Homo sapiens: one gene and its partner. The protein of the gene in region 1 interacts with the protein of each later gene in a pairwise test. Each region holds a gene or a part of one and is shown in the gene's direction. Other genes may lie near its edges.

What was found.
Region 2: the proteins of CERT1 (region 1) and CBS interact in a two-hybrid assay, tested with the Homo sapiens proteins (one large-scale study listed by BioGRID).

The regions. Positions count from the first base shown.
Region 1 is NC_000005.10:75,379,895-75,382,929, reverse strand, and holds part of CERT1 (ceramide transfer protein), read left to right. Parts: intron 1-852; coding exon 853-981; intron 982-1,728; coding exon 1,729-1,858; intron 1,859-3,035. UniProt on the Homo sapiens protein: Shelters ceramides and diacylglycerol lipids inside its START domain and mediates the intracellular trafficking of ceramides and diacylglycerol lipids in a non-vesicular manner.
Region 2 is NC_000021.9:43,058,556-43,062,335, reverse strand, and holds part of CBS (cystathionine beta-synthase), read left to right. Parts: coding exon 1-25; intron 26-1,789; coding exon 1,790-1,895; intron 1,896-3,032; coding exon 3,033-3,110; intron 3,111-3,367; coding exon 3,368-3,502; intron 3,503-3,780. UniProt on the Homo sapiens protein: Hydro-lyase catalyzing the first step of the transsulfuration pathway, where the hydroxyl group of L-serine is displaced by L-homocysteine in a beta-replacement reaction to form L-cystathionine, the precursor of L-cysteine.

The DNA.
Region 1 (3,035 bases):
TGTGGATTTGTATTCATTAGGTCTAAATTTGCCAAATCTTCATGTATTACTTACTGTCTCCACACAATTTACCCAACACTATATTTATCAACTACATGAAATTTTGTATCTTTAAAAAATGAATCATTTCATCTTGCAAATGATTTGTATTGTATGCTATTTATTACTCTCAGTAATCAGGAATGACGCTGCATAACAAGGACTAGTCCAGATACATATACGAGATAACCAAAATAAAAGTAACTTAAATAGGATAAAAGGTTTTTTTTCTCATTTAAAGTAGGTAGTCCCATTTATTGAAGACCTAGGCTCCATGTCATTCCCATAGTATATGTTTCCCCTTGCATACCTTAATATTGAAATATTTAATCTAAGTGACTTAGAATTCTTTCTAATGTGATTTGATTCAAATAAGTCTTTTTTCATTAAATCTTTGAATCTAAGTAGAACATAATCATGGAGTATGAGGAGAGAGGAATGGAAAGTTGTTGCTTACTGGGTACAGAGTTTCTGTTTGGGATGATGATAAATTTCAGAGATAGCAATATGGTTACATAACACTGTGAATGTAATTAATGTCCCTGAATTGTACCCTAAAAGTTAGTTAAAATGACAAATTATACGTGTATATATTTTACTGCAATTAAAAAAATAGAACATTATTCCTTTTATTATATTGTTCTGCAAAGCTATTAACTCTGTTCATAATTAATCATTTGGTAGATATCCTCAGATGCTTTCCATTTAAAATTTGAGAGATTTTACCTTCAATTAAGACATTTATTGGCATTACGTTTCTCTTGTTAGTTCCATGTTAGATCTGTTTTTCAAAAGATTTTTACTTCTCCACAGAGGGTGTGGCCTGCTTCTCAGCGAGACGTATTATATCTTTCTGTCATTCGAAAGATACCAGCCTTGACTGAAAATGACCCTGAAACTTGGATAGTTTGTAATTTTTCTGTGGATCATGACAGTGCTCCTGTAAGTACATGTATATAAATGTGTATAATTAAACAATATAAAGCTAAATACACAATGCGGGACAAAAATGATAAACACAGCCCATACACTATACTTGATTTGATAATGGTTCTTAGATTTTATGTTGGATTGACTGCTAGGAACAGTATAGCCCATGTGTTGTCTGAGGGCAACAGTCATGCCTATGAACATTCCACCAGGGCCGTTTACCTTTCCTTCTAATGTTTCGTGAAACAGCCAAAAGGGCAGTACATACACTGGGCAGTAGGCTACTTCCCACAGTTATCTCTTAAGCCGTTATCAACTGCCAGCCAAACCTCTGTGGTTTACCACAATTTAGCTCCATTTACTACTTAAGAGGAAGGGATCCTGGGCAACATGGTTAGACCCCATCTCTATTAAAAAAAATTTTTTTTTTTTTTTTAATTAGCCAGGCCTGGTGATGTGCACCTGTGGTCCCAGCTACTCTGGAGGTTGAGGCGGGAGGATTGCTTTGAGCCCAGGAGTTTGAAGCTGCAGTGAACTATGATGGCACCACTGCACTCCAGAGTGGGCAACAGAGCAAGACCTTGTCCCCAGAAAAAGTGGGTGGGGAGGAATCCTGGTGTCATATCAGCTTGGTGCTTATAAGATTTCACTGGAGATACTTTTAAGAGTTACGATTTTGGTTAACCTAATATAATATTAGACCAGCAGAGTTTACAAAATACTGGGTATCTACTGATGCTTTGTTTTTTGTTTTGGCAGCTAAACAACCGATGTGTCCGTGCCAAAATAAATGTTGCTATGATTTGTCAAACCTTGGTAAGCCCACCAGAGGGAAACCAGGAAATTAGCAGGGACAACATTCTATGCAAGATTACATATGTAGCTAATGGTATGTATTTTATTGTTTTTGCTCTTTGATAATGTGGCTGTTCTTGATCATGACCTATATGACAACAATTTGGACAAATGCCTTTTTAGTTCTTATCCATTAGATTACTAATTTTTAATTTGGAGAAAGGTATATCAGAATTACTAGAGAATCTTTGAAAGTACAGATGTCTGAATTTCACCCTGGAACTACTACTATATGAGTATTTCTGAAGCTAGAGCTGGATAGGAAAATTTTAAAACTTTATCCCTAGGTCACTGTATATACCCTTCTTTTTTTTTTTTTTTTTTTTTTGAGATGGAGTCTCGTTCTGTTGCCCAGGCTGGAGTGCAGTGGTGCAGTCTCAGCTCACTGCAGCCTCCGCCTCCTGGGTTCAAGCGATTCTCTGCCTCTGTAGCTGGGATTACAGGTGCCCACAACCACGCCTGGCTAGTTTTTTGTATTTTTAGTAGAGACGGGGTTTCACCATCTTGGCCAGGCTGGTCTTGAACTCCTGACCTCGTGATCCACCCACCTCGGCCTCCCAAAGTGCTGGGATTACAGGCGTGAGCCACTGCGCTCGACCTAGCCTTCATATTAAGCACCATTTTCTTAGATATTTGCCTCATAGAACAGATTTATTATTAGGAATATAAGCAACAGTGGGGAAGGAAATTAAGAGTTCTTTTACTCATTGTCAGCCTTTTTAGCTTTCTGAATCAATGTTCCCCTAGTCCTTATTAGTTGCTAGTTACATATTTATTTCTCTTTGACATTCATTGTCAGGCTTTTTGTTTTCTGAGTCAGCGTTTCCCTAGTCCTTATTAGTTGCTAGTTACATATATTTGTTTCACTTTGGATAGGTCTTTTCATTGCTTGCTTTGGGTCCTTACTTCACCTGCTTTGCACCTGGAGTAATCATTGCAACCTCTCTCATCAAAAGTCATACCTTCTTTATACAGGGCCATAACTGCTAGTATGTTCAAAGAAACAGTTGTACCTGAGTAAGTTACTATTTCATTATAGTACAGATTTGTGAATAATCTGCCCTAAATAACCTTAAGTGGTGCTATACTAATTTTTGCAGGTAATTTCGGGAACTAAGAACATTGTAGAAAGGTTATAGATGCTTTCTTATTTGCTGTCTGATTATGTCTGATGGATAGTGTTAAGGAATGAAGGGTTGGGACTTAAAAGA
Region 2 (3,780 bases), on another chromosome or scaffold:
ATCGCGCAAGAGGGGCTGCTGTGCGGTGAGTGGGTGGCGGGCACGGGGGTATGGGGAAGGCAGAGATGGCTAGGGGGCACTGGGGATGGCTGGGGGCGCACCCTCAGTCAGCCACCGACCTGCATGTGTAAGACAGCAGTTCTGAGGAGTGTCACTGCGGCGGCCACGAGCCTCAGGTGTTGTCTGCCTGCCCAGTGTGGTCACCTGCTCAGGTGAGGGCAGGAGGCCATGGGGCGGGGCTTCGAGCTGCCTTCCAGAATGTGTTTCTAGAACAAGGCTGAAGCTCTCATGGCACTTATTGTTTCTAATCAAGTCCACCAGGGCCCCTGGGGCGGTGGCTCTGCATTGACGGGGCCCATGGCCGGGACTGGGTGCTGCGAGCACCCTGGAGCAGCTGGGGAGGGGACTGGAGCCTGAGGCTGTCCAGCTCGACCCCGCTCACCTTCCTCCTACCCCGTGCCCCTCTGCCCACCTGCTTGGGGGTGGACAGACCAGGTGGCCGCTGGCAATGCCACTGACTAGCCACACAGGCAGCAGAGGCCCTGTAGGGACCACAGTTGATCTAGACCTCTGGGGACTCGGAGAGCACACACCAGCTTCTAAAACGCAGGCAGGGACATGTGAGGTTTCTACATGTGCATTCCGTGTGTCATGTCACTTTGGGGGTGGTGACAGGGAAAGTGGAAGGAAACCAGCCCTCAGCATGGCCAAGTCCCCCGTTAGCTGAGCCCCAAACTAGAGATTGGAAGAAAGTCTTGATTGAAAAACCATTTCCCAGCCAGGCGCGTTGGCTCATGCCTATAATCCCAGCACTTTGGGAGGTCGAGGCGGGTGGATCACCTGAGGTCAGGAGTTCAAGACCAGCCTGGCCAACAGGGAGAAACCCCGTCTCTACTAAAAATACCAAAAAAAAAAAAAAAAGTAGCCGATGTAATGGTGCATGCCTGTAATCCCAGCTACTCGGGAGGCTGAGGCAAGAGAATTGCTTGAACCTGGGAGGTGGAGGTTGCAGTGAGCCGAGATCACGCCATTGCACTCCAGCCTGGGTGATAAGAGCAAAAACTCCATCTCAAAAAAAAAAAAAAGAAAAGAAAAGCATTTTCCAGATGAATCTGTCACGAAAGGTGACTTGGTGCCCATAATCGTTGGGCTCTCCCTGTCTCAGTCTCCCTGCTCCCCATGTTGGTGGAGAAACAAGCCCCTGCCTTTGGGGCTGGAAAGCAGGTCCATGGGCCCCGTTACAGAGGAGGGTGCCTCTCTTCCTGTGGGGGCTCCTACTGCAGACTTAGACCTTCCCGACTGCTGTGTGCACCCTCAAACTAAGCCCAGAGAAGACGCCTCTGACTCTGACTTCAGGGCTCCTAGGGACAGCTGGTGTCACTGTGAGCCTTGGTCTCTTGTTTATAAAGCAGAGCCCAGTGTGCAGTCAGGCAGCCTGCAGGCGTGGTGCTGGGGGCTCCGTCCTCGTAGCATCGCTGGCTCTAGGCTCAGGGCCAGGAGGTTTGCCAGGGGCCGCAGCCCCACTGCAGGCATTTCCCTGGCACCAGTGCCCACCCCAGCTCATTATGAAGCCCCGAGTGGACACAGAAACTCCATGGTGCACAAGGAAGAAGCCGATGCTCACGGAGAAGTGGGGTCCTCCCAGCCCCTCTCCCCGAGGCAACCCCTCTTGACGGATCCTTCGGAGTGTGTCTGACATGCTCCCATGCGTGCACGTGCACAATTCATGCATACGTGTGCACCCACGCACGCTCACCCTGGCGCGTCTGACTCGTGGCCCTCTCTGCAGGTGGCAGTGCTGGCAGCACGGTGGCGGTGGCCGTGAAGGCCGCGCAGGAGCTGCAGGAGGGCCAGCGCTGCGTGGTCATTCTGCCCGACTCAGTGCGGAACTACATGTAAGACACGGCTTCCCTCCCAGGTCCCTGCTCCTCTCCATCCTGCCACCCTTCCCTGGATGCCTCTCACGCCTCACCTGAGAACCGGCAGCCAGAACTGGGAGGGGAGGAGGCCAGCGGGGCCCTGTGAGCACCGCCTCCACTCTCCTGCCCACGTGCCCTCACGCTGTGGGGCTTCCCAGCCTCTTAATGCTGTGAAAATCAATGCACACTCGCAGTGACAGCCCTGACAGGAGGGGCATGAAAGACGGTGGCTCCCTCTCTGTCCCTCCTGTCCCTTCCTCTCTGGTGTCTGTCCCCCTCACTGCTCTGGGGTCCGTGAGCTCCAACGGGTAGCCCTGGCCACATGGACTGACGTCCTCTTGGGCCGGGCCCTGTGCCACCTCCTATCCACCCTGACTCCCTCTGCTGCTTCCCCCAAACTCCAGATTGGGACCGAGTGCTGCCCAGGTGGCCCCCTAGGACTTGCTGTGACTGTTTTGCCCAGAGGCCCCTCGGACAGTAACGCCACAGACCTCGCTGGTCACCGGGCAGCCAGGCTGAGACTGGCGCTGCTCTGCACCTGGTCTCCGGAGGCGGTACCAGGGCGGGTGTCTACAGACCCCCATGCCCTGTCCCCTGCACCTGCAGGGTTTCCTCCATGGCCTGCAAGCTGCAGCGGCTACACAGCTCCCGAGAGCTCAGCTGCCCTTGGAGGGCCAGGCCTGGCTGGTGGGTGCCCCCAGTTGGGTTCCCCAGTGTGGGGTGATTCACATCTGGTGCCCAGGGTCAAGATGCCCTGTGCAGGGCTCCTGCCCACCCCCGTCAGTGCAAGAACACCATCTCCCCACATACTTGGCCAGCCTGCCATGTGTACCTGTGCGTGTGAGTGTGTGAGGGGCAGAGAGCGAGCATGAGAGGACGTGTTTATCTGAGTGCCTGAGCGATGGCTGTGTGCATGCTCACACACGCTTGTTGGCCATGGGGGCGGGAAGTCCAGCCCCCAGGCTTCCCCCTGGGGCTTCCAGCCAGCACTTGGGGGTCTCTGCTGCACCAGTGAGGTCCAGGAGAGGGGCTGGGCAGGCAGTGCGTGCCACTCAGCAGGGGCGGGGGCCCGGTGGGGCCCTGCGGGGACTCGGTGACTCCCCCATCCCGCAGGACCAAGTTCCTGAGCGACAGGTGGATGCTGCAGAAGGGCTTTCTGAAGGAGGAGGACCTCACGGAGAAGAAGCCCTGGTAAGACCGCTCGGCCGGAGACCCGCTGCCTGTGCTGGCCCTGCCCAGTGTGACAGGCAGGAGAGCACTCCCCCGTGGCCTGTGCTGGCCCTGCCCAGTGTGACAGGCAGGAGAGCGGTCCCCGTGGCCTGTGCTGGCCCTGCCCAGTGTGACAGGCAGGAGAGCGGTCCCTGTGGCCTCCTGCTGAGGTGCTGCCGGCGGGGGTGCGAGAGCGTTTGTCCTTATCCTGATCCCCCCGACCTGCCCTCTTCCCTCAGGTGGTGGCACCTCCGTGTTCAGGAGCTGGGCCTGTCAGCCCCGCTGACCGTGCTCCCGACCATCACCTGTGGGCACACCATCGAGATCCTCCGGGAGAAGGGCTTCGACCAGGCGCCCGTGGTGGATGAGGCGGGGTCAGTCTCAGCCCCTGCTCAGAGCTCAGTCCTGGGTTCTGTCTGCCCAGCTCCACCCCGTCAGTGTCACTGGACAGGGCAGCCATGCAGACCCTGCAGCTGGGCTGATAGGCCCGCCTGGGCCGCCTCATACAGACGTTCAGGGCATTGGAGGCCCCTTGCCGGTCCCTGAGCAGCCTGGGGCAGGGCTGCCGTGCTCACTCCAGGCCCTCAGACCTCAGCCCACCCACCCTTTGTGTGCAGGCTGTCCTGGGCCCACCTGGAGGTCAGGGGAGAGA